Homo sapiens: one gene and its partners. The protein of the gene in region 1 purifies or fractionates together with the protein of each later gene. This does not show direct contact. Each region holds a gene or a part of one and is shown on either strand. Other genes may lie near its edges. The genes, in order: SLC49A4, BPNT2, UST, GOSR1, ARL8A, ABCA3 and ARHGAP8.

Evidence for each region.
Region 2: the proteins of SLC49A4 (region 1) and BPNT2 purify together in Homo sapiens (affinity purification with mass spectrometry; one large-scale study listed by BioGRID and IntAct). This does not show direct contact.
Region 3: the proteins of SLC49A4 (region 1) and UST purify together in Homo sapiens (affinity purification with mass spectrometry; one large-scale study listed by BioGRID and IntAct). This does not show direct contact.
Region 4: the proteins of SLC49A4 (region 1) and GOSR1 purify together in Homo sapiens (affinity purification with mass spectrometry; one large-scale study listed by BioGRID and IntAct). This does not show direct contact.
Region 5: the proteins of SLC49A4 (region 1) and ARL8A purify together in Homo sapiens (affinity purification with mass spectrometry; one large-scale study listed by BioGRID and IntAct). This does not show direct contact.
Region 6: the proteins of SLC49A4 (region 1) and ABCA3 purify together in Homo sapiens (affinity purification with mass spectrometry; one large-scale study listed by BioGRID and IntAct). This does not show direct contact.
Region 7: the proteins of SLC49A4 (region 1) and ARHGAP8 purify together in Homo sapiens (affinity purification with mass spectrometry; one large-scale study listed by BioGRID and IntAct). This does not show direct contact.

Annotation. Positions count from the first base shown.
Region 1 is NC_000003.12:122,857,569-122,861,068, forward strand, and holds part of SLC49A4 (solute carrier family 49 member 4), read left to right. Parts: intron 1-2,506; coding exon 2,507-2,634; intron 2,635-3,500.
Region 2 is NC_000008.11:56,980,368-56,983,867, forward strand, and holds part of BPNT2 (Golgi-resident adenosine 3',5'-bisphosphate 3'-phosphatase), read right to left. Parts: intron 1-3,500. UniProt on the Homo sapiens protein: Exhibits 3'-nucleotidase activity toward adenosine 3',5'-bisphosphate (PAP), namely hydrolyzes adenosine 3',5'-bisphosphate into adenosine 5'-monophosphate (AMP) and a phosphate.
Region 3 is NC_000006.12:148,942,530-148,946,029, reverse strand, and holds part of UST (uronyl 2-sulfotransferase), read right to left. Parts: intron 1-3,500. UniProt on the Homo sapiens protein: Sulfotransferase that catalyzes the transfer of sulfate to the position 2 of uronyl residues in glycosaminoglycan chains. Has mainly activity toward iduronyl residues in dermatan sulfate, and weaker activity toward glucuronyl residues of chondroitin sulfate.
Region 4 is NC_000017.11:30,518,908-30,522,407, forward strand, and holds part of GOSR1 (Golgi SNAP receptor complex member 1), read left to right. Parts: intron 1-1,031; coding exon 1,032-1,114; intron 1,115-3,346; coding exon 3,347-3,471; 3' UTR 3,472-3,500. UniProt on the Homo sapiens protein: Involved in transport from the ER to the Golgi apparatus as well as in intra-Golgi transport. It belongs to a super-family of proteins called t-SNAREs or soluble NSF (N-ethylmaleimide-sensitive factor) attachment protein receptor.
Region 5 is NC_000001.11:202,134,738-202,138,237, forward strand, and holds part of ARL8A (ADP-ribosylation factor-like protein 8A), read right to left. Parts: intron 3,302-3,500; coding exon 3,228-3,301; intron 1,064-3,227; coding exon 970-1,063; intron 790-969; coding exon 722-789; intron 484-721; coding exon 413-483; intron 1-412. UniProt on the Homo sapiens protein: Plays a role in lysosome motility. In neurons, mediates the anterograde axonal long-range transport of presynaptic lysosome-related vesicles required for presynaptic biogenesis and synaptic function. May play a role in chromosome segregation.
Region 6 is NC_000016.10:2,275,381-2,278,554, forward strand, and holds the end of ABCA3 (phospholipid-transporting ATPase ABCA3), read right to left. Parts: intron 3,079-3,174; coding exon 2,908-3,078; intron 2,690-2,907; coding exon 2,499-2,689; intron 2,291-2,498; coding exon 2,217-2,290; intron 1,426-2,216; coding exon 1,294-1,425; 3' UTR 501-1,293; downstream 1-500. UniProt on the Homo sapiens protein: Catalyzes the ATP-dependent transport of phospholipids such as phosphatidylcholine and phosphoglycerol from the cytoplasm into the lumen side of lamellar bodies, in turn participates in the lamellar bodies biogenesis and homeostasis of pulmonary surfactant.
Region 7 is NC_000022.11:44,759,075-44,762,574, reverse strand, and holds part of ARHGAP8 (rho GTPase-activating protein 8), read right to left. Parts: intron 1-3,500.

The DNA of each region.
Region 1 (3,500 bases):
AGTGTTTCAGGGATATTGAAAGAATAAATTGACACTGTAATTTCTAAATCACTTTATTTGAAGTGTTAGGAAAATATAAGAAAACTAAAAGCTAAAGAAGCAGAAGGGGAATATAGTATTTGTAGGAAATCACTGATACTAAAAATACATTGACCTGTCTTATTTTGACAAGAATCATACCTCATTTTTCTAGTTAAATCTCCAAGCCAATTATAGTGAGTCATTGATCACATCCTATTCTGAGCACCAAATTGGTCAAAGGGGGAACAATTATGTATCAAAAATGATGTCTCAAATGCTCCTTTGTCATTATTTTCCTTCTATACCCCTTAATTTTAACTAGATATAGATATAATTAAAGGGAAAATTTAGAATGAGGACTTTTCTGCTTTTAATTTGTTGAAATGGAAGTTCTAAAAAAATACTACCCTTACTCTGGGATCTGAAGTCAATTTCAGTTATCTCCTAGCCCTAAAATCAATTTTAAAATTACTTTCCTGACACCATTTTTTGGGATTCCCTAGGACAGTGCTACCTTGTAGACATACATGAGTGCTTTGGGTGATATTTTTGTAATTAAAGACCACTATTAAAGATACTTCTTCGTCCTAATAATACACTTCAATGGTATCAGCCTATTCGAAAGGACTGGATCTCCAAAAATAGCAGACTACAGTTGTCGGTTTATTCTTGTATGATCAGTTTCTGTGAAACTTTCTTGCAATTCAACTCTGATTTGTACTAAAAGCCTGTTTTATTCTCTTATACCTTGTCATCTCTGTATCTGACAAATAAGTTTATGCAGCATACCAAAATGTAAATCTGAAAACTGTTAGGTAAGCGTGGGATTAAAACAGTCTTTTGGATTTTCTTGAGGAATATTTTGTAAAGCTGTGGAAACTTTTTCAGCATACCTAAGAATTTTCTGCTTGAGGACAAATTTAAGTCACTGGGCAAAAGTGCATTCATTTTTCCCACCAAAAGATGGCATCAGCTCTCATAGGAAGTCATTTTATTCTAGAAAACACAAACATGATTAACCATATCATGTCAAATAAGTACAAAACAGAAGATAGTATTCAAAGTTTTAAGAAGGACAGTCACATAATTACAATAGAAATGTAAATCAACTTTAGAAAATTAAAAGTGAAGAGAATATAGTAAATGTTGTATTTGAGATGGGATCAGCTATTCTATAAGAGGAACAGTTCTGAAGGACAGAATAAATTGTGCAGCCAGAGGATTGTGCCCGTACAATCAACAGTTAATCCACAGGTGAGGAAAAGCAGCTGGCAAGTGGAAAATTTTTTTGGCATAGCTAATGATAAGCGTCTCTACCAGATGCCCTTTAGTTTCATGAAAACTCAAACATGAAAACTTAAAATGCTATAAAAGTCCCAAGTTTAGAAGAATAATATTCACTATTCCAGATGCCGTGTATGTTTTGTTCTCAAGAAGTTTACAATCTGGTAGGGAAGACAAAAATAAATGCAAAAACAAGAGTTTCCAATAGAGAAAGTGCTATGAAGAAATAAAATAGAAAGTGGAGGTGGGATGGGGAAAGACTTCTTCACTGAGCCCAGAGGGCCTTGTTGAACTGAGACCTGAATGACCTGAGGGGTAAACAGGAGTAAGACGTGAAGATCCGGGTGGTACCAGCATTCCAGGCAGACGGAACAAGTACGGAAGCTACATATTGCTGTGGTAAGCAACCATGGCATGTATGAGAAACAGAAACATGGCCATCCAACTGGAGAACAGTAGAAGAAGAGAGAGCAGGGCCAGGCAGCAGGTCACATAGGACCTCAGAGGCTCTGGTGTAGGCATCTGTGTTTGTTCTCTAAGTGAGTTTGAATTTTGAGAGAGATCTTTGCAAGTTCATGTCAACAAGTTAGCCTGATTTTCAAAACTAAGATAATACATGTTCATTATAGAATGTTTGGAAAGTATAGAAAAATATGAAGAAAATGACAGTGACACTTAAAAACTCAGAATCAACTGGGCATGGTGGCTCATGCCTGTAATACCAGCACTTGGAGAGGCTGAGGTGGGAGGATCCTTGAGCCCAGGAGTTCAAGACCAGTCTGGGCAACATAGAGAAACCCTGTACACACACAAAAAAATAATAATTAGCCCAGCTACTCAGCAGGTTGAGGTGGAAGGATTGCTTGAGCCTGGGAGGTGAGGCTGCAGTGAGCCGTGATCACATCACTACACTCCAGCCAGGCAATGGTGAGATCCTGTCTCTAAAAAAAAGTAAACACTCAGAATATATCCTATAAATTATAGATCCTGAACAAAGATGCCGTTTTTTGTGTTTTATAAGAGAAAAAAAATTATCACAAAGTAACATCATACAAGAAAATTTGTTTTAAAAAAACACTGAAAACTGTCTTTTAAAAGAATATATGGAAAATTCCTCAAGTAGTTGTTAGTGAAAGTGTGTCATTTGCTTAAATAGTATTTTTAAATCCCACTAGAATTAATAGAGCATTTTTGTTTTTAGGTTTGCAGATTTTATCAGGGGTATGCTGAAACTAATTCTTCTCCTCCTGTTTTCGGGAGCTACACTGTCATCCACGTGGTTCACCCTGACCTGTTTGAACAGCATCACACACCTACCTTTAACCACAGGTGAGCATAGGCTATTTTTGAACTTTTAATAAATATTTTCATTCACAGAAGTGTACATAACTCTGACAGTAGGACTTCTTCTTGCTTTCTGTAAGTAATTGTTAAATATACAAAAAAGTTTCTCTTGTCCAGTCATCAAACCATCATCTTATCTAAAGAGTCCAAAAAATAACTAAAAATATTTTAATTGGTATTTTTCACATGGAAAAGAAGTATAATCTTTAGCCTTAACACATAGAGCATGGAAATGCTTATATTTGTTTAAAATTTCTATCAGAGCATAATACAAAGATTTTTATCTTGGTTATAGTCATTATATCACTGTTAAATAATAATAATAATTAACAAGGCAAAAAACTATGGTATACTTCAGTAAAGTTATTTGAACCAGCCCCTATAGGTTTATTTTACATTTAGTGTTATTCCATCATTAATACAAAGCAAAACTTACTGGAAATACCTGTTGAAAGTATATTACAGCCAGCTTACTTAGCTTATCTAATGGACCTGAAACATTTTTAGTTGCTGTTGTTTTTCTTGTCATTATTAATATCATCAATTCAGAGTCTATTTTCTATTGCTGCTGTAAAAGTTATGCAAATTTAGCAACTTAAAACAACAGAAATTTATTATCTTACATTTCTGTAGAGTAGAAGTTCAATACAGGTCTCACTGGGCTAAAATCAAAATGTGAACAGACTCTAGGGAAGAATCTTTTTCCTTGCCTTTTCCAACTTCTAGAGGTCACCCACATTCCTTGTTTATGGCTCTGTCCTCTGCCTTCAGAGCCAGCAACCTTGGGTCAAGTCCTTTTCACGTTGCATTATCTGTGCCTTTCTTCCATCGTTACATCTGCTTCTGAACCC
Region 2 (3,500 bases), on another chromosome or scaffold:
ATCCATGACATCAGGTCTTTAAATGCTTCCCAATCTAATATTCAAGCCTGGTTTGTTGACTAATCAAGACAGATAATTCGGATATAGAGAAATATAGAGAAACTGAGCATTGAAGAAACAAGCTACTTAAACCTTAACAATGCTTTATGAAAGATAATAGCTCTAAAGTGTGAAAATAGACAATATTCTGGAACACAACACAAGCAACTAGAGTTAGAAGAAAGACGTATCATAGAATAGGGAGGTACAGTCAAATTTTCTACCTTTTTTTTTTTAACTAAGGAACAAAATTAAAAGATAAAATAAATTTAACTTACCATACAGATATGTAAGGATGTGGGGTAAGGAGAGAAATATAAGTAGAGGAAGGGTTGTTACGAGAATAGAGGAATATATTCTCTCCTTAAGGAATATATTCTCTCCTTACCCCACACCCTTACATACATACATATACACACACACACACACACACACACACACACACAAACCCCCCTTACACATATATATTCTCTCTGTATAATATATATTATATATTATTTCTACATATAACATATATATACATGTGTTTGTATAATACTTTATGTAAGTATTCTATTCATTTACAAACACATTACAGATTCCTTTAAATTGAGATTGCTCAATTTGGCACGACTGACAATTTGGACTGTATAATTCCTTGTTGTGGGGCTGTCCTGTGCATTGTAGGATGTTTAACAGCATCCCTGGCTGAATGCCACTAGAACGCACCAGATGCCAGCAACAACACCCTCAGGTGTGACAAACAAAAATGTCTCCGGACATTGTCAAGTGCGCCCCTGTCCCATCCTATGTAAAAAACACTGTTTTCAACAGTGTGCTTCTTAATGCATCCTAAAATTAGTCTAATTTGTAAAACAGTGTTTTAAAAATAATGTTTTGGCCAAGTGTGGTGGCTCACGCCTGTAATCCCAGCACTTCGGGAGGCCGAGGCGGCTGGATCACGAGGTCAAGAGATCAAGGCCATCCTGGCCGACATGGTAAAACCCCATCTCTACTAAAAATACAAAAATTAGCCAGGCATGGTGGTGCGTGCCTGTAGTTCCAACCACTCGGGAGGCTGAGGCAGGAGAATCACTTGAACCCTGGAGGTGGAGGTTGCAGTGAGCCAAGATCACGCCACTGCACTCCAGCCTGGCGACAGAGCAAGACTCCATCTCAAAAAAAACAAAAAATAAATAATAATAAAAAAATGTTTTAGAACTGCATTTACTTTTGTAAACTGGCATATACCAATTGACTAAATCTAAGAATTGAGTGTTCTTTAAGAATTAAGTTAATAACAGATCATCAATCTTATATGAATACTGCCTCACCATGAGACTTCTATCACATCATCATACACACACACAAGAAAAAATGTCCCCAAAATTTTGATTTTAGTTAGGGACTTACACTCTCAGCAGGACAGGCTGTTGGGTCCTGTGCTTTCTGACAAGCTCCCTTTCCAGAGTAGGTCATGTTTATGCTACATGTGATGCCATGCCTAGACCCCACGCTACAGTGCCAAAGCGATTACAGCACTGACAATACATGAGTATTGTCAATACAACATCTCTCACCTATAGTCTTCAGAAAGTTGCAGAGACACAGACATGATTTTAAAAAATATAACTATCACCAATCTCCAGAAGGTACCCTGAAACACCCCAAATTATCACAGGAGAGGTTAAAAATACTAATATTCTAGAAACATCAAACCGCTTAAATCATTAAATATCTCTTTTTTTTTTTTTTTTGAGACGGAGTCTCGCTCTGTCACCAGGTTGGAGTGCAGTGGTGTAATCTCGGCTCACTGCAACTTCCACTTTCCGGGTTCGAGTGATTCTCCTGCCTCAGCCTCCGAGTAGCTGGCACTACAGGCACCCACCACCACACCCAGCTAATTTTTGTATTTTTAGTAGAGACGAGATTTCACCGTGTTGGCCAGGATGGTCTCGATCTCCTGACTTCATGATCTGCCCGCCTCGGCCTCCCAAAGTACTGGGATTACAGGCATGAGCCACCGCGCCTGGTAAATCTTTAAATATTTCTCAGTACAGAGCAAAGTAAACATTCAATTTATTCACTTATGTCTTTATTAATTCAGCAAATGCTTATTGATTGCCTACTATATGACAGACACAGTTACAGGTCTTAAAGATACCACAGTGATCAATGTGAGACAAAAATTTCTGCCCTGTGGAACTTAGATTCTAGTATAGATAAACAACGAGACACATGAAAAAACATGTAGTATGCTGGATAGTGATAAGGAGGAAAAAATAAAGACCAAAAGGACAGAAAGAGTGTTGTTGGAGAGTAGAGAAAGGACTGTTAGAGAGTAGTGGAAGGGTTATTCTTTAAGAAAAAGGGGTAGATAGTATTAAGAAAGGGTGGCTAGGCAATTATTCATAATGGCTAAAATCAGAAAACTACTAATTCCATCAATTAGTAGTTTATCCATTACCCTGATGAATGGATAAATATATTTGGTATATCCATACAATGGAAAGTTACTCAGCCATATATACGAATAAAGTATTGATCATGCTAAATCATGGATGAACCCCCTTGCTTTGTGAAAGCATCAACATACAAGAGATCATATACTGTTTGATTCCATTAATGTAAAATGTCCGGAAAGGCAAATCTATAGAGAAAGACCGATTAGTGGTTGCCTGGGATAAGGGATAAAAACAAGAATAAACAGTTAATGGGGTCAGGGGTATTATTAGGGTGGTGAAAATGTTCTAAAACTGATTAATGATGATAGTTGTACAATTTGGCAGTTCTAAAAATTACTGAATTGTATACTTGAAATAGACAAATTGTAAGATATAAAAACTATGCTGCAATGAAGTTGTTTTGAAAAAAAAGTAATGTAGCTAGAGAAGCCCCTCACTGAAAAGGTGGTATTTGACTGAAGAGATCTAAAGAAAATAAGCCTGGCAGGCATCTAGAAGTGCATTCTAGCCCAATAAATAACAAATGAAAAGATCCTAAGGTGGGAATGTGCCTGGTGTGTTCAGAGGGCAGCAAGGAGGCCAGCAAGGCTACAGCAGAGTGAGCCAAGGAGAAAGGCTAAGGAGCTGAGGTCAGAGAGTAATGGAAGCCAGATGGTGAAGGACCTCGCAGGCTGCAACACAGAGCCAGTTGCCCTCCATCATAACAGCTATTAACAATGTGCAGAGGGTCCTAGTCATTGCAGTAAGCTAAAGGGAGGGGGAGAGGAGCAAGTGGGGAGGTACAAAGTTTAGAAAGAAAAACCAATCCATAATATGAAGTTGATTATTGAGCACTGAGAAAATCTAAAAGAGCTTGCAGATAAATGCAACTCCAATCAAAATCCCCAGTGTTTTTTGTTGTTGTTGGTTTTTTTTAACCTTCTCCTTGGAAACTGGACAAGGCATTTCTGAAAATTACATGGTAGAACAAAAAGTCAAGAAGCAACACAACATTTTGGGAAGAGGGGAAAAAAAATA
Region 3 (3,500 bases), on another chromosome or scaffold:
GAAATAGTGTTTTGATAAGGAAGCTAAAGCTATCTAGGGCACATGGGCATAGGATCTCTCTCTCCTCCACCCTTTATATAACTCTTCAAGGTTTTAATAATTTGAATAGCTGTTGGAGGGTCAGAACAGATGTTACGTTTATAGTGATATAGTAGCCTTTACTGTTACAACTGGTGGGAGGATGTGGACTTGCCTAGTATTTCACAGACAATGAACTGGAGTTCTGCAGAATGCAAATGAGTCACAAACACTCATTAAGACTCCCCTGAACAATGAAGACTGCAAAAACGCTAGGTGAAATCCAGTCAAACAGTTTGTTTGCAGTTTTGTTTTTAATTTTCGAAGTCTTCAAAATGCGAATAATCATCGTGAATTGATTCATTCGGGACAAGGCACGCAACATTTACCAAATTTATTGAACCATAATATTTTTTTTCTTTCAATGTCTTAGAGGACTAGGATTCTCAGGAACATACCTAGGGCAATGCTGGTATGATGATTTCGACAGAGCTTCTTAACCCTGGCTGCATCATAAAATCTCTTGTGACACTTCATTAAAGAAAAAGTTTTCTGGGCTCTACCCCAGAATCTCCAGGAGAAGGGCCACTGCAACTCTAGGTTTTAAAAGGCTCTGCTGAGATTCTGCTATCCAGCTAGAGGAGATAAACACTGCATGATGAGAATGGCTTTTGGATTAAGGAAGGCCTAGGTTCAAGGCCAAGAGCCACTGATAGTCATTACAATGTATTTGGAAAGTTACAATCTGATTGTCTTAGGTGTCTCACCCATAAAACAGGGAATCATACCCACTCAGTAGTATATTTTTAGGTCCAAAAAGTTCAATGAAACAATGAAGAAAAACAATGCAGGTTGTAGGTGCTGTATCCAACACGTAATCCTCAGTTTCAACAGAAATAGAAATAGTAAAATTATGTGCCTTCTCAATATGCTGGTAACTTTTGCTTTTCTTTAAAGAGAATGAAAGTAATTATGGATTCTCATAGTTGTAATACACCTGCAGCACTCTGACCTTTCTTGTATTTAGAGCAATGCTCAGAAAGATGGTGTCACCTCTTAACCAAAGATGGTTATGTGTTTTTTTGGCAATCACATGCCATGTCTTCTGGGGAAAAAAATTCCCTATTTTTCAAAGCTGTATATAATCTCCATTTTTCAAGAGATAATTTAAGCCAGCTTAAGACCTGAAATCTAGTTTTAGGGCATAAATGCAATGATGTCATCACAGGTTTGCATGATGAGCTGTGCGAAAGTCCAACACTTGCCCAGCAGCCATTGCCCATGCTCTGCTGTTGAGGTGATATTTCCCAAAATATGAACTTCAAAGGTATTTCTATTTTTATAAGGACAGATGTAGTGGGATTTTTATAGGCATTCTAACATTTGGTGTCTTCACACTCCCTTTCCTTTTTAATAATCCCTTCAGTGTCTTGTTCCATTTAATAGATTTAAAAAATTTAGCTCTGTGTGTGTGTGTGTGTGTGTGTGTGTGTGTGTGTGTGTATGATCACAACTACCCTCCAGAGAGCAATGCATGTGTGAATTTGACTGTGGCCCAGAGAGGTGCCTTTTTGTATGAATGAAATGGAATAGATAATCTGGTCTTAGAAATGGATAATATTCCAAAGTTCATTTGTAAGTCAGTAGTTTGAAACTTGGAGCACATTTTCTCATAAAAGAAATTCTCTACACGGTGGATAAAGTCCCAGGCCAGCCCACAAGAGCCTGTTTAAGTCATACTGCACCTGAAGTGGAATTGTTATTAACTCTAGAGGACAATGATTCTATGGGAACAAATTTTCAGAATTCTACCATTTATAGGTGAGAACAACTGACTACAATTTCCACTAGTCTTCTAAACCATTTCCCCCTTCATTCCTCTAATAAATTACCAAAAAAGGAGCTATTCATACCACAAATTATTTCTTGAATATATATTAAAATAATATTTTTTCTGTTTATGCACGTTGAAACTTTAATAAAAGCAATACAAGGACAAAAAAAGTGTTTCTCTAAATGTTGTTGAACTTCAAACTGGGTTTCTTGTCCTTTTATTTCCTGGCTTCTCTCTCTGCATGCCAGAGCCAGATGGCTGCGGAGAGGTAATAGTTACTGTTATTATGTTTGTTTTCACATTAAAATTATATATTTGTTTTTTCTACCTTATCTTTACCTTTGCCATGCGTTTTTAAAACTGCCTTACAATTTAATAGAAATCTGGAATAATGAAGTTATGAAATATATTCTAGGTCACTTTGACCACAGGAATCAGAAATGTTTCAACTACACAATACACAGATTATGCTAGAAGTTGTACAAATATATCACAGAATCACAGGGCTGGAAAGAATCTTAAAAGACTGTCTAGTCTCTTCTCTGGCTTCCAGACAAGCCAACCATTCCAAACAGATGAGAGCTAGCCTATATTTTAGAAGAGAAGGAAGACTTTGTCTTTAACCCTTTCTGGATCTAACAATCTATACATGGTTAGTAAATTGCTGTTAATTTTTATTCTAAATTATTCCATTCATAGTTACAAGTGTATTTTACTTTTTCATGTTTGCTCCTCATAGGAAACAAACTAGGTTGATCTCTATAAAATCCCAAGGCACATTTAAATACTGTACTTTGTGTTCTTTCTTCTAACAATTCCTGAACATCCCAATGTCTAATCCTTGAGTTACTTTTGTCCTGCTCTCTGCAGGTAGTTTGTTGTCTCTCCTGCAGTGGGAACTAAAATCTAGCAACTGTGTTTTATGAGGCATCTGGGAACTGAGTATGATGATATTATATTTAAGTGTAATCCCATAGATAAGCAGGCCATAAGAGTTAGATTCAAAAGAACACCAAATTTAATAATTATAATAAAATTGCAATAATGTATTTATTTATAATTCCTTTCTTTCAGGCAGTTAAAAAGGCATCACCAGCCTAATCACATTAGCTCTTCAATCAAGTAAGGTAATCAAAGAGAACCTGCCCCTACTGTATGTACAATCTTATACATAAAATGCAATATCCTTAAATGCCACCAAAGATCATTCTTTTCTTTGGAGACCCTAATATGGAACCTACAAGGTATAACCTTAAAATATTTTTTGCTGATTGGTAATGATTCTTTAACTATTCGTGCTGGTAATGGCTATTTAAACTTGATACTGAGTGATTTTTTAATGGAAGTTTGCAAAGGAGTGGGCAATTTGATCTCTGTATTATAAAAGACACAAAACATAGTGGCTTTAGAACAAGTATGGTTGGCTATGTTACTGTCTTAAAACAGTTCTACTTTCCCCCAAGATAAAATGGAAATACGCAATTGGTAAATTAAGAATGAGATTCCCTCTGTTTGTGAGGTTCTGAATGTTTCAAAGCTGGAGATTATGTCCAAAGAAAATGGACATGGATGGAAATTTATTTATTTATTTTTTTATTTACTTATTTATTATTTATTTATTGAGACAAAGTCTCGCTCTGTCTCCAGG
Region 4 (3,500 bases), on another chromosome or scaffold:
CTCCAGCCTGGGTGACGGAGCAGGACCCTGTCCCCCAACCCCCAACCCCCCCCAAAAAAAGGATATTAACTCAAGAGATCTTTTAAACAGGACATCAAGGTAGTCACAGGGAAGAGATTGTGTTCGACCAAAAGTGACTTTCTCTTTTCTCTTTAATCTTTTCTTTTTTTTGAGACAGGGTCTCGCTCCATTATTCAGGCTAGAGTGCAGTGGCTCCATCACAGCTCGCTGTAGCCCCCCCCTCCTGGGCTCAATTGATCCTCTCACCTCAGCCTCCCGAGTAGCTGGGACTACAGGCACACATGTCTAGCTAATTTTTTATTTTGGTAGAGTTGGGATTTCACCACATTGCCCAGGATGGTCTTGAACTTTTGGGCTCAAGTGATCCTCCCACCTCGGTCTTCCAAATTCGGTGCTGGGATTACAGACGTGAGCCACCACACCCAGCTGTTTTAGCCACGTTTAATGAGTCTGTGACCTTTGTCAGCCATCATGGAAACCCAGCATAATGTTGCATGCATGCCTAGTTGGTTCTCAAGTAGAATTTTGGAACATAATCTCTTCATAAATTAAGGGCTGGTTGTGTATTCACATTTTATGATATTTTATATTTCTTTTCTATTTTTATAATTATAATTCCCTTTCAACAGTTTTTCCTGATTAAAGATATTTTAGTAGCTGGCTTCTTTTTAAACTCTTTTTAAACTTTTTAAAGTTTTTAAACTTTAAATTTTAAGAAGCTTTTGTAATATGTGATTTGTCTGTTTATGCCTTATTTTGTTTGTTATTTTGAAGCAAACATAGGAAGTGGCTTACTGCCTTGTATAAAAAGATATCAGAGAACAGTGGAGTCATTTGGAAAAAGCGCAGTGGTAAAGTGGCTTCGGAAGTGATTTTTTCCCCTTATTTTCTGGCACAGTGCTTTCTAAGATGATGTTGCTCACTGTAGTTTTCTTTCACTTTTAAAGGCATGATGGTTCCAGGCAGGATAATCTTAAATGGTGATTTGTCATCTTTTTTTCCCCTTGCAGCATTGCTATGGCAACAAAAGAAAATATGACTTCACAGAGAGGAATGTTGAAGTCAATTCACAGCAAAATGAACACTTTGGCCAGTATCCTTTTTGAATGTTCGCAGTCTGTGTTTTGAGGGTAGAGGGGAGAAGTGTCTGTGTGTGCTTTTATAGGGGGCAGGTTGCCATCATCAGTAGCAGTAGAGCCCATCAGTAATTGCATAATATGAATATACTGTGCATTCCTACTTTGTGAAAGTTTATGCTCTTTAGTACCATTCCTAAAAGACTGCACCTCAGAAGTTTCTTACTACTAGATGTAGAAGAAAAAAATTATAAATGTGAATTTAAAAATTATCCACCAATTTCTTCTACATTTTAGAAAGCTTTTAAATTCATGTTAGAACTCCACACTATACATTATTCTTACCTAAACATGATAAATTATATGCCTTTGTTGTTTTTCCCATTTAGAGATAAGTCAGTGGCAGATGCTTGGAAGGGGGAAGGAAGGAGACAGCCACCCGTGCAGATGAGCTATAGCTACTGATGGAGTTTGTAACTCTATGCACAGGCTGAATTCTAGGATACATTCTCCACTTGTTTGTTGTAACCTCTACTTTAAAATGTTTCAGTTTTCTGTTTTAAATTAGGATTATTAATACTTCCCAGAAACCCACTAGGGAACCAGAAAAGCCTGGCACTCTGAGTCATTTCATTCAGCGAACCTCTGAAAAGACAAGCCTTCTAGGCAAAAAGCTTTCCTCCCCAACTGCCAAAGGGGGAGGAACCTAGAATTTTCAAAAGCTGAGTATCTTGTAGTCCTAGATAATTTGAGTTCACTTTTAGTTTGATATGTCTTTGCCTAAGGAAAAGACTCTCCTGATGTGTGCTGTTATTCTCCAGTCCACTGTGAATTTTGTTCTTGCCTTGTCACCCTAAGTATAAAACCACATGTCTAAAATCACATTTTAGATAGGGCTATAAAATTTACAGAGTGCTGTTATATACATTATCTCATTTTACTAAACTATGAACTCAATTGCCAGCCAGAAAAGCTGATCAGTGAATTTAAGAGTTTGTATTTAGTGAAACTTTTGAAACTTTGAAATAGAAGTGTGAGTCAGATAGCTGATGATTTAAAACACTAAAGCCTTTCTCAATTGTTCATTAGAATTTACCACCACTCTTCTTTGTGACCTCTTCTCTACTGCTCTGTAAGCATCTCTCCCATAAGTTCTCTCTCTCTTTTTTTTTTTTTTTTTTTTTTTTTTTTTAAGACAGAGTCTCACCCTGTTACCATCCAGGCTGGAGTACAGTGGCACGATCTCAGCTCACTGCAACCTCCAGCCTCTCAGGTTCATGCAGTCCTCCCGCCTCAGCCTTCTGAGTAGCTGGGACTACAGACACGTGCCACCATGCCCGGCTAATTTTTGTATGTTTTGTAGAGATGGGGTTTCACCATGTTGCCCAGGCGAGTCTCAAACTCCTAGGCTCAAGCAGTCCTTCAGCCTTGGCCTCCCAAAGTGCTGGGATTATAGGTGTGAGCCACCCTGCCCAGCCCAACACTAAGTTCCCTTAAGGCAAAGTAGTATACTGGAACCTAGCATAGCGCCTCATACAAATAAGTCACATGGGAATTTTACAATTACTCCAAAAGAATGTGTTCAAAAAAAAAAAAAATCAAAAAAAATGGGTGTGGGTCAGGGCTAAAGTTTAGTCCACTTTCCTCCTGTATCTGCCTTCTGCTGCGAAGTAACTTTGAAAATATTAATAATTCACCAGTGTCTGATTATATAGACCTTAGAGTTGGTTCCCATGAATTGCCTGAATCTAAGGCGGGAAAAGATCAGGTATTTCTTCAAACTCTCAGGCAGAACTCCCCAGTCTCCTGAGAGAAGAGGAAAAGAGAAGGAAAATGAGGAAAGGGAGGGAAATGGGTGGTGGTGGCGATGGGAGCTGGCTATGCCTGTGCCTCCCTGCCAGAGTTCCTCCATTCCTGGCCACGCTGGCTCCCACCCTGACCTGAAGCCTGGCAGTAAGCCCTCAGTGCTTGGGAACTGTCATCGTCCTTTTCTTCTCCCTCTCTCTCTATTACTATTCTTATTTGTGTTACACACAAGACTGGGAGATGTGTATTGGTTAGGGGCCTTGAGCCGCAGCGCGTTCCCGGTTTGGGCAACTGCATCTGCTAAAGATTCCCTTGGTGTGAGTTTCTTCCCCATGCCTTTCATCACTGTTTCTAGACACCACTGATCTCTATTTTTGTGATTCCTACGACTTTTCGCCAGAGAGGCTTCTTCCAAATATGACCTTAATAAAGATTTCCCAAAGATCGTTTTCCTGCTGTAAACAGCCTGATCCAGAGGATCAACCTGAGGAAGCGGCGGGACTCGCTCATCCTAGGGGGTGTTATTGGGATCTGTACCATCCTGTTGCTGCTGTATGCGTTCCATTGATGGGACATCTTCAGGGACTCTTGACAGCC
Region 5 (3,500 bases), on another chromosome or scaffold:
GAACTCCAGCCTGGGTGACAGAGCGAGACACTTTCTCAAAAACAAACAAGAAGTCCAGAGCTGGCAAGCGCCACATGGCCCTGAATGAGTAGTAGCGGAATTCAGGTGCTGGGAAAGAGACAGAGCCACAGCATGTCAGAGCCAGCAGGGACCTGAGAATCACCGGGTCCAGCCCTGGAATCTTAGAAACGAGGAGGTGAAGCCCAGAGCGGGGATCGATTTGCCCGAGATCACACAACCGCTTGGCGACAAGCTGGGATAGTGCCCAGAATCTGGGCCACCTGGCTGCCTTTTCTACCCAAGAGCCACAGGGCTTTGGACTTCAGGGAAAGTTGTGGAGCGAGAACCTGAGAGCCACTAAAACACTCAGAAATGCCTCTCCCCTCTCCTCCCTTTCCCCCATCCTACGCACCAATGTTGTCCTTTTCTTTGCAAGAGATGGAGTAGCAGCAGATCTCTCGGTCCTGGATGGCAGACAGATTCCTGGGGGAAACCAGAGTAGAGTCCGCTGAGGCTACGAACGTCCAGGGGGCCTGGGGCTAGGGGACAGCGGGGCCTTTTTCTTACCTAAGAGGCTACAAAGGGGAGGGTGAGGTGCCTGAAAAGGTCGGCTCTGCTGCCACCGTGTGGCTAATACTAAGAACAGCAGCAAGCCTAGGCTGTTGGTCTGGTGGTTGGGGAATTGGGAGAGCAGAAAGTAATATAGAGTCACCCAACTCACATTTTCTCAATCAGCTCCTTCTCATCCAATGCTCCCGGAAGGTCTCGCTTGTTACCCAGGACTAAGACCTACGGAGAAGGGAGGGTGAGGATGAGGTCTAGGGCAGCCGTGCCCAGGTTGTCTGGGTGGTGAGCTGGCCTCCTGGGTCCCGTTTCCTCTCTGCGCCCCTACCATGCCTGGCTTTTACCTGCTCCCAGTGACTTCCCAGCCGAGCTCCCTCCCCATCCCGCTCCCTCAGGTCTGCTGACCGGGATGCCCTGCAGCTGAGGTTTGTCCAGTAGGTTGTGGAGCTCGTTCTTAGAGGCCTCAATCTTCTCCTGGTCAGCAGCATCCACCATGTACCTGGGGAAAGAGGCAGGGTGGGGACAAGCATGTTGACACCACAGGCTGAGGTGGTGCAAGGAAGAGAAGGAGCTGCTGCTTGGAGGTGAAAGCATCTGTTGCAGCTTGGTCACCTCGGGATCCATGGGCTACCTGGCCTGGCTCAAGGCAGGTGCTCCGCGGATGTTTTCTGAGTCTATGGGAGTGAACAGCTGCAGGGACTCCTTAGGCCTGCCATTAGCCTCCAAGTGCTACTCTGGGGAAGCCGTTACTCATGTGGAAAAGCGTGGGCCCTTTGAGATTAGCTGTAAGTCCCTCTCAAAGTGACCCACTTATGTTTTCATGGAAAGACTAAATAAGGTTAGAGTGAAAAAAGCAAAGGAAACCTTAGAAGATTTCTTTTAGCAAGATACTTTTTGTTATCAGGTTAAAAAGCAACCTATTGTGTATTCTAAACAATCTATTGTTTGGGCATATATATATAGAATAAATTTTATTATTATTATTAATATCATTTTTGAGATGGAGTCTCGCTCTGTTGCCAGGCTGGAGTGCAGTGGTGCAATCTCAGCTCACTGCCACCTCCGCCTGCCAGGTTCAAGCGATTCTCCTGCCTCAACCTCCCAAGTAACTGGGACTACAGGCACATGCCGCCACGCCCGGCTAATTTTTTGTATTTTTAGCAGAGATGGGGTTTCACCATGTTAGCCAGGATGGGCTCAATCTCCTGACCTTGTGATCCACTCGTCTCGGGCTCCCAAAGTGCTGGGATTACAGGCATGAGCCACCGCATCCAGCCTATTATTTTCTGAGGCAGGGTCTCACTGTCACCCAGGGTGGAGTGCAGTGGTGCAATTACAGCTCACTGCAGCCTCGGCTTCCTGGACTCAAGAGATCCTCCCACCTCAGTCGTCTGAGTAGCTGGGACTACAGGTGCGTGCTACCAGGCTCAGCTAATTTTTGTACTTTTGTAGAGATAGGGTTGCACCATGTTACCCAGGTTGGTTTTGAACTTCTGACCTCAAGTAATCCGTCTGCCTTGGCCTCCCCCTGTGCCCTGCCATTTTTCTTTTCTTTTCTTTTCCTTTTTTTTGAGACAGAGTCTCGCTTTGTCGCCCAGGCTGGAGTGCAGTGATGCGATCTCGGCTCACTGCAAGCTCCGCCTCCTGGGTTCACGCCATTCTCCTGCCTCAGCCTCGCGAGTAGCTGGGACTACAGGCGCCTGCCACCACGCCCAGCTAATTTTTTTTGTATTTTTGGTAGAGACAGGGTTTCACTGTGTTAGCCAGGATGGTCTCGATCTTCTGACCTCGTGATCCGCCCACCTCGGCCTCCCAAAGTGCTGGGATTACAGGCGTGAGCCACCGCGCCCAGCCCATGCCCTGCCATTTTTCAATGTTTAAAATTTATTTTATTTTATTTTTTTAAAGACAGGATCTTGCTATGTTGCCTAGGCTGGCCCTAAACTCCTGGGCTCAAGCAATCCTCTTGCCTCAGCCTCCCAAGTAGCTGGGATTACAGGTGTGTGGCACCATGCTCAGCCAAAAAAAACATTATTTTTAAAAAGCAAGAGAGGGCTGCGCGCGGTGGCTCATGCATGTAATTTGGGAGGCCGAGGCAGGCAGATCACCTGAGGTCGGGAGTTCAAGACCAGCCTAACCAACATGGAGAAACCCTGTCTCTACTAAAAATACAAAAGTGGCCAGGCGTGGTAGCGCATGCCTGTAATCCCAGCTACTTGGGATGCTGAAGTGGGAGAATCGCTTGAACCTGGGAGGCAGGAGGTTGTGGTGAGCCGAGATCGCACCATTGCACGCCAGCCTGGGCAACAAGAGCGAAACTCCGTCTCAAAAAAAAAAAAAAGAATCATTTAAACCACACAAAATTCAAGACAGTGGTGACTTTGGGTTGAGGGGAGGGAGACAAGTCAATGAAGAGGATGCACAGGTGCATCTGGCTGGTTAATAGTCTATAGTCTGTTTCTTAGATTGGGTAGTGAGTGCCCAGGGCATTTATCCAATAAGAAACAAGTGGCATGCAAAATAAACGCAGGCCCTGGACCGACACTGTGTCATGAACCAAGGATTATGTCTAATAAAACCCTGCGCCTCTGAGGTCCTCGAAGGTAGCAGGGCTAGGGGGGCCGGGTAAGGCTGGAGTCTGGCGATGCCTCCCGTGTACTTACACGATGGCGCTCACTCCTCGGCAGTAGCGCTCCCACATGCTGCGGAAACGCGGCTGTCCCCCAATGTCCCAGAGCTGAGCAAGAAGAGGGTGAGATAGCCTCAGTAGTGGGCAGGCCACCAAAACGTGTCTTGGGTCTCAAATGCCCCCTCCTACCCTGCCCTACTCTCCTCTGCCTCCCCGGCTTCCTCTCCAGTTCTCCCCCGTCTCCACCCGCTCTCCGTCTACCTTAGAAGTCTTCTACTGTCTTTTCCCAGCTCCTCAGCAGGGGGAC
Region 6 (3,174 bases), on another chromosome or scaffold:
ATTAGCTGGGTGTGGTGGCGCGTGCCTGTTGTCCCAGCTACTCGGGAGGCAGAGGCAGGAGAATGGCTTGAACCCGGGAGGCAGAAGTTGCAGTGAGCCAAGATTGCGCCACTGCACTCCAGCCTGGGCAACAAAGCAAGACTCCATAAATAACTAAAAAGGGAGCTGATGAGGAGTTATTTCTGGGAAATGGCAAATGCCCACGGGTGACCCTGATGCCAGCAGCTTCTCTCCCACCAGACCTGTGCTTCCCACACAGCCCCACCTGCTCTTGTCTTTAGACTAAGAGCCTGTCACCGGGCGTTGATCTAGCCGGCTTTTTCCTTTGTGTTATGGGCCTGTTCCTTCACCTCAGTGTATTCTCTGCGTGTGCTCCCTTCTGGGAAAAGCAACGTCCCACGTTTGTGTGATTGAAATGTGAAAGGAGAGCCTCATGTCTAGATTGTGGGCGAGTGATTGAGCCCTGTGACCGCTCGCGCGTGTGACCCACAGACTGTGACTGTGTCCCCTCAGCATTTATTTTCTGGATGGTCACAACGTATTCAATGTGTCCTTGAGACAGCCACCCAGCCCTTAGGGTGGTCCCTGCGTGTCCTGGGGCGGGCGACTTCCTGAGGGTGCAGTGCTGGAAACAGAGACTGCTTCGAGCCTGGCCACCTTCCCTCCTGTGCCGGCTGCTTCTAGGAGATGCTGTGGGACGGTGCCCGGCTTCGCGGTGACTACCATGCCCTAAGGAGCAGAGCCTCCAGGATGCCCCCGGGCTGCGCTGGACGCTAAGACCCCAGCACCTAATCACAGTCAGCAGCTTCCCTCCACTGACAGTGATCTGCATGGTCCATTCCTGGCGGCCTGGGGGCCTCGCTACAGTTCAACCTGGCTGGCTTCCCGCTTCCTCCCCAGGGGAGATTAGTGTCGTGTGTAAACTTGGACAAGTCACTGGGTCCTCTCTCCAGGGAGTGCCTGGAGAAATTCAACCCCCAGCTCAGCTGCAGCCCTTCCTGGGTCAGCTCTCCACCCAGAGACCCCGGAGCTTGCCCGCAGACTGCCCGGCCTGCCCCAGCTCTGGGAAAGTGAACTCCAGAGTATGCAGACATGGAGATGCGCATGCTGATCCTGGGCATGAGGGCTGGGCTGCACTCGTCCATTCTGTGCATACTGCCTTGAATTTTTCATATCCATCATAGAAAAAAGTGATTAAAAATAAAGGATGAGATAAACTTGGAGAGAGAGGATGTAAGATGGGCCCTGCTTGCCCGTCCTGTCCCTGCCTGATGGCGAGACAGCCGCCACCCCTCATCGCCCCTCCTCTGCGGTGGGCGGCTGCAGGTGGGCGAAGCTCAGGAAGACCTGTTCCAGCGAGATCTGGCTCACGGAGTAGTCGTCCACGCCGTACTTTTCCTTGGCTTTCTCCAGAATACCGAAAACCTTTGGGGAGCAGAAAAGTCACTGGTAGGAGAGAACAGGGCCCAGGCTCCTCTGCGGGACCTGGGAGTCCTCTGGCAATAGGGGCTGATGAGGCCCCCACAATCCTACCCCTGCCCAGCGCCACCCCAGAGCCCCAGAGAGGTCAGCCCTGCGACGGCACCGTGCTCCCAGGTAGAGGACGCTGGCTAAGCAGGAGCCAGCGGGGATGGGGCCCAGCCTCCTCCCTGTGCTGTTCCCAGCTCAGATTACAACCTTGAGCCAGTGATGTTCCCTTTCTGAGCCAGTTCTTTTTTTCCCCCATATTTTTTTAGAGAGAGTCTTGCTCTGTAGCCCAGGCTGGAGTGCAGTGGCACAATCATAGCTCACTGCAGTCTCGAACTCCCAGGCTCAAGCGATCCTCCCACCTTAGCCTCCCGAGTGGCTGGGACTACAGGTATGCATGATACCTGGCTAATTTTTAAATTTTTTGTAGAGACGGGGTCTATGTTGCCCAGGCTGGTCTAGAACTCCCAGGCTTAAGCAATCCTCCCTCCTCGGCCTCCCAAAGTGCTGGGATTATGGTGTGAGCCACCATCCCTGACCCCTTTCCTGTTTTACACTGAATTCCTTTTACCACTGATAATTTTGGATATAAAACCCCCAAACCAGCACGTATCAGGCTGAGTGTTAGGGGAGAAATGGAAAGTGACTCCTCTGTGGAAAGAGCCTGCAGTCACCACAGAGGGAGAGACCCCTGGAGGGACCTCCCCCTGCCCCATGAGTGCCCAGTGGGGCCCCAGGGACTGCCTCACCTTCGCCCAGCTGAGGTCACGGCCCGGCAGGTGGTAATGGACCATGCCTTGGTGCTCATCTTCCAGGACGCTGCCTGCACAAAGGAGAGACGGTGTTGCTGTGAGCGCCGGGCTGGAGGATCGGGGAGGGTGCCTGGGTGCTCAGCACTGGAGTCCTCGTCCCAGGGATTGGGGAGATGGGACTTGGCGGGGCGAGGCACAGACGCTCCGCACAGCAGATGGGAGAGGCCTAGGTAGGGGCCCAGGGCCCACCCAGTGGGGGCTGCCGGGGCCGGCACACACCTGGAAAGGTCAGGTCCACGAAGGCCTTGAACTCCTCCAGCGCCTCCTGTTGCCCTTCACTCTGCACCTTGGCCCGCAGGGAGTAGCCGCTGCCGAACTTGCTCTTGAGGTGCTGGGGGCTGCCCAGGCACTTGAACTGCCCCTGCACCATGATGGCCAGCCGGGTGCACAGGGCCTCACACTCCTCCATGCTGTGGAGAGGGCGGGACCTCAGATAGGGCTTGGGGTGCCAAAGGCTTGTGCAGACAGGAAGGCATTGGCTCTCCGATCAGGCTGTTCCTGATACCCATGCTCAGTGTGGCTCACGGGCAGACTCTGCACCAGATGCTGATGGGTCTCCTGGCCACCTGGCTCCTCCATGGCCCACCCGGTGCTGAAACTTCCAGTAACCCACAGACCCAGGCTCTACCTGTGGGAGGTGATGATGATGGCCTTGCCAGACTCTCGGGCTCGTGCCACGGTGTCCCAAAGCAGGCGCCGGGCCACGGGGTCCATGCCAGTGGACGGCTCGTCCAGGAAGATGACAGCAGGCTCTCCGATCAGGGCGATGCCGGTGCTCAGCTTCCGCTTGTTACCACCACTAGAGGCAGGAGGGTGCCAGGTGGGGGAATAAGGCTGAGAGTTAGCATTGGCTCCCATGTCCCAGTGGAGGCCCGTGTCCCAGCAGCGGCCCACA
Region 7 (3,500 bases), on another chromosome or scaffold:
GAGACTCCATCTCAAAAAAAAAAAAAAAAAAGAGAGAGAGAGAGTTCATAATGAGTAACAAAAGATGCTCTTCCAAGGGTTTTAGGAGCTCTGCCAGGAACCAGGGACAAAGACCTAACAAAGATTTTTTTTTGTTTTAGAGATGGGGTCTCATGCTGTTGCCCAGGTTGGAGTACAGTGGTATGATCATAGCTCACTACAGCCTTGAACTCCTGGGCTCAAGCGATCCTCCCACCTCAGCCTCCCGAGTAGCTGAGACTACAGGTGCACACCACTGTACCTGGCTTTTTCATGTATTTTGTAGAGACTGGGTCTCACTATATTGCCCAAACTGGTCTCAAACTCCTGGCCTCAAGTGATCCTCCCATCTCAGCCTTCCGGCTCACTGGGATCACAGGCACAAACCACTGTGCTCAGCTAAGATTCATTATACCACAGCCCCCACCTGCAGGTCAGCTCCTGTCTGTCCTTCTGATCTCTGTTAAGACAATTCTCTGATATGGTTTGGCTGTGTTCCCACCCAAATCTCATCTTGAATTGTAGCTCCCATAATTCTCACATTATGGGAGGGACCTGGTGGGAGGTAACTGAATTATGAGTTGGGGGGGGTTCCCCCACACTGTTCTCATGGTAGTGAATAAGTCTCATGAGATCTGATGGTTTTATAAGGGGAAACCCCTTTTGCTTGGTTCTCACTCTGTCTTTGCTGGCCACCATGTAAGATGTTCCTTTGCTCTTCCTTCACTTCCACCATGATTGTGAAGCCTCCCCAGCCACATGGAACTGTAAGTCAATTAAACCTCTTTCCTTTATAAATTACCCAGTCTCGGGTGTGTCTTTATCAGCAGCGTAAAAATTGACTAACATATTCTCTCTTTCCAAACAGGAGCATGGCAGGCCCCTCTCCATATACTCTTAGCTCCCTGTATCCATTACTCATAGCTCTCAACCAGGTGCAAGTTTACAGACGTCCCTTGGGGAATTCATTCCAGGACTCCTGGCAGATACCAAAATCCACAGATGCTCAAGCCCCTGCTGAAATATGGTGTAGTATTTGCATATAACTTATGCATATCCTTCTGTATGCTTTAAATCATCTCTAGATTACCTGTAACACTTAACACAATGTAAATGCCTGTAAATAGTTCTTACATTGTGTTGTTTAGGGAATAAGGAGAAAAGTCTGTATAAATTCAGTACACACAACCATTTATTTTCTTTTCCCAATACACTAAATCCGCGGTTGGTTGAATCCACAGATGAGGAACCCATAATATGGAGCCCATGGATACAGAGTCCACGGTTACAGAGGCCACGGATGCAGAGCCCACGAATACAGAGGCCACCAATACGGAGGGCTGATGGCACTTATTTCCGTGATCCTTTTGCTAATGTTAACATGGGCCTCCCTTAGCAGATCAAAGTTTCACGAGGACCAAGCCCATGCCTGGATTTGCTCAAACAGTATCCGTGGTGCCTAGTACAGGGCCTGGTACATGCAGGTCCTTCGTAATCATCAAAATGAAGTGAAAATAAACCAGACATTACAAGTGGGCCCTTTCTCCTGGCCAGTGGGCTTCAGAGCAGAAGCTCCATCCCCCAAAGCCTGCCTCGCCCTGCATGTGAGTCCGCACATGCCTCAACTCCCTCCCGACCCTCCCTGACAAGCCCTTTCTCTCGGATCCCCCCCAGGGTCGGGGACAAGGACACAGAGGCACCATCAGCATCTGTGGGGCTGGGCCAGCTGCAGCCCCTCATTAGACATGGACCCGAACAGGCATGCTGGCAGAGTGGATGTTATGCAAAGGAAAATTCAAATCACCCAACTGTTCTATTTATAATTCATAGCAAAATGGTTTGTTGCTGTAAAAATATATTTGCACATTACACAAATAGACCCTCACAGCAATTATCTTAATGCTGTAGCTACAAATTAACACCTACTTACCTCGGGCAAATTAGCACCAAACTTAATTTGAGTGGCAAGTCCGATGTGCAGGGCATACAGAGGAAGAGCTCGCTGTGGTATTTGCACAATGCAGGCTCTCGTTTTGGAACTGGGTGTTCTGATAAAGGGCTCTTGGGAGAAGGAGGCAATGAGTTTGATGCCACCCAGGCCTAAGCTTCCAAGACCCAGAGACAAAGAAGCTTGCACACAGTCATACCTGAGGCAGACACTGGCCAGCGACTCCTGGGAAAGTCCAGGAATGATGGGGGCAGGAGATCTTGCTCATGGCTGAATGGGGGTCACTACTGAGCTGGGATTCCAGGGTCCCCCAGTGGCATCCCATAAAAAGTAACTTCCACTCTTTTGTCTCAGCTATGCATGAATTCGTTAATACAGACCCTCACTACCCAGTCTTCATCACAACCACCACTGGGTCCCCAACGCTGGCAAGACGGCATGCGCAAGGCCATTTGTCCAGGTAGCAGATACATGAGACCCCCGAAGGTGGCGGCAGCGAAGTCCAAACAAGCTGACTGTGACCTGCATCAGGACCTTGTCAGAGGCCTGCCCACAAACCGCAGGAAACCTTCAGCACCCTGAAAGGGCAAGGGGGTCTCTAAAGGGCTGCTGGGGTCACCCCCTCTCCTGTGGGTCAAGACTCAGGGCTCCTCACACAGCCTTTAGGGAACACCAAGCATCTCTGCTGCCCTGCGCAAGGGCACCCAGGTGATCATTCGGGTGCGCAACTCTCACCTGCACACCCTCCAGCTGCAAGAGGTGAGGCTGTCCCGCCTCCCAGGGCCCGCCCAGTTAGGCTAAGAGTAATCATATCTCCCTTTTCAAAGGTTAATTCAGAAACCCAAGCCAGAGCTAATCAGCACGAGGCAATCTCCCTGACAATCTCCCTGACCATCTCCCTTCAGGCCCCTGAGGCTCCAGGATACTTCTGAGACAGAAGATCCTGTTTCTCAAGACAGAACCACTGTGAGAGTCTCTGCGCAGCTGGGTATGCAGATGAGACCCGGAGGGCTGCAGCCAACTTGCCGCCCCTCTGCAGACCCAGCAGCCCACAGAGAATGAAGGGAATAGCTAACCCCTGATCAAGCCACACCTGATCTCCATACTATCCCCAGACCTTTGCAGCTACATGGGCTAATGCACCCCCCTTGACTTTGGGCCGGTTCAGAGTTGTGTTTTCTGTTAATTACAGCCAAAAGCGTCCTGATGCTCCAGGTGCCCTGCCTACCCCAGATTGGGAGAGGGGCTTCCTGTGGGCTCTGGCAGCCCCCAGGTCCATCACAGCCCTCATCAGTCTGCACCATGTACCTGTATGCTCTTCTTGACCCATCACTGTGTGTGCCCTGACAGCAGGGCCATGTCTGACTCACGTCTGAGTCTCTGCACTCAGCCAACCCGGGGCTGGGGACACGAGCAGGGACTTGGGAGGTCTGTTGAATAAAAGAACAAGCAGAGGGCTTGGGACAGACCCCGGGATCCAAGGCCCAGCGTGGCCTGGTTCCACCCACACTCCAGGGTCACCCCACCATCCACC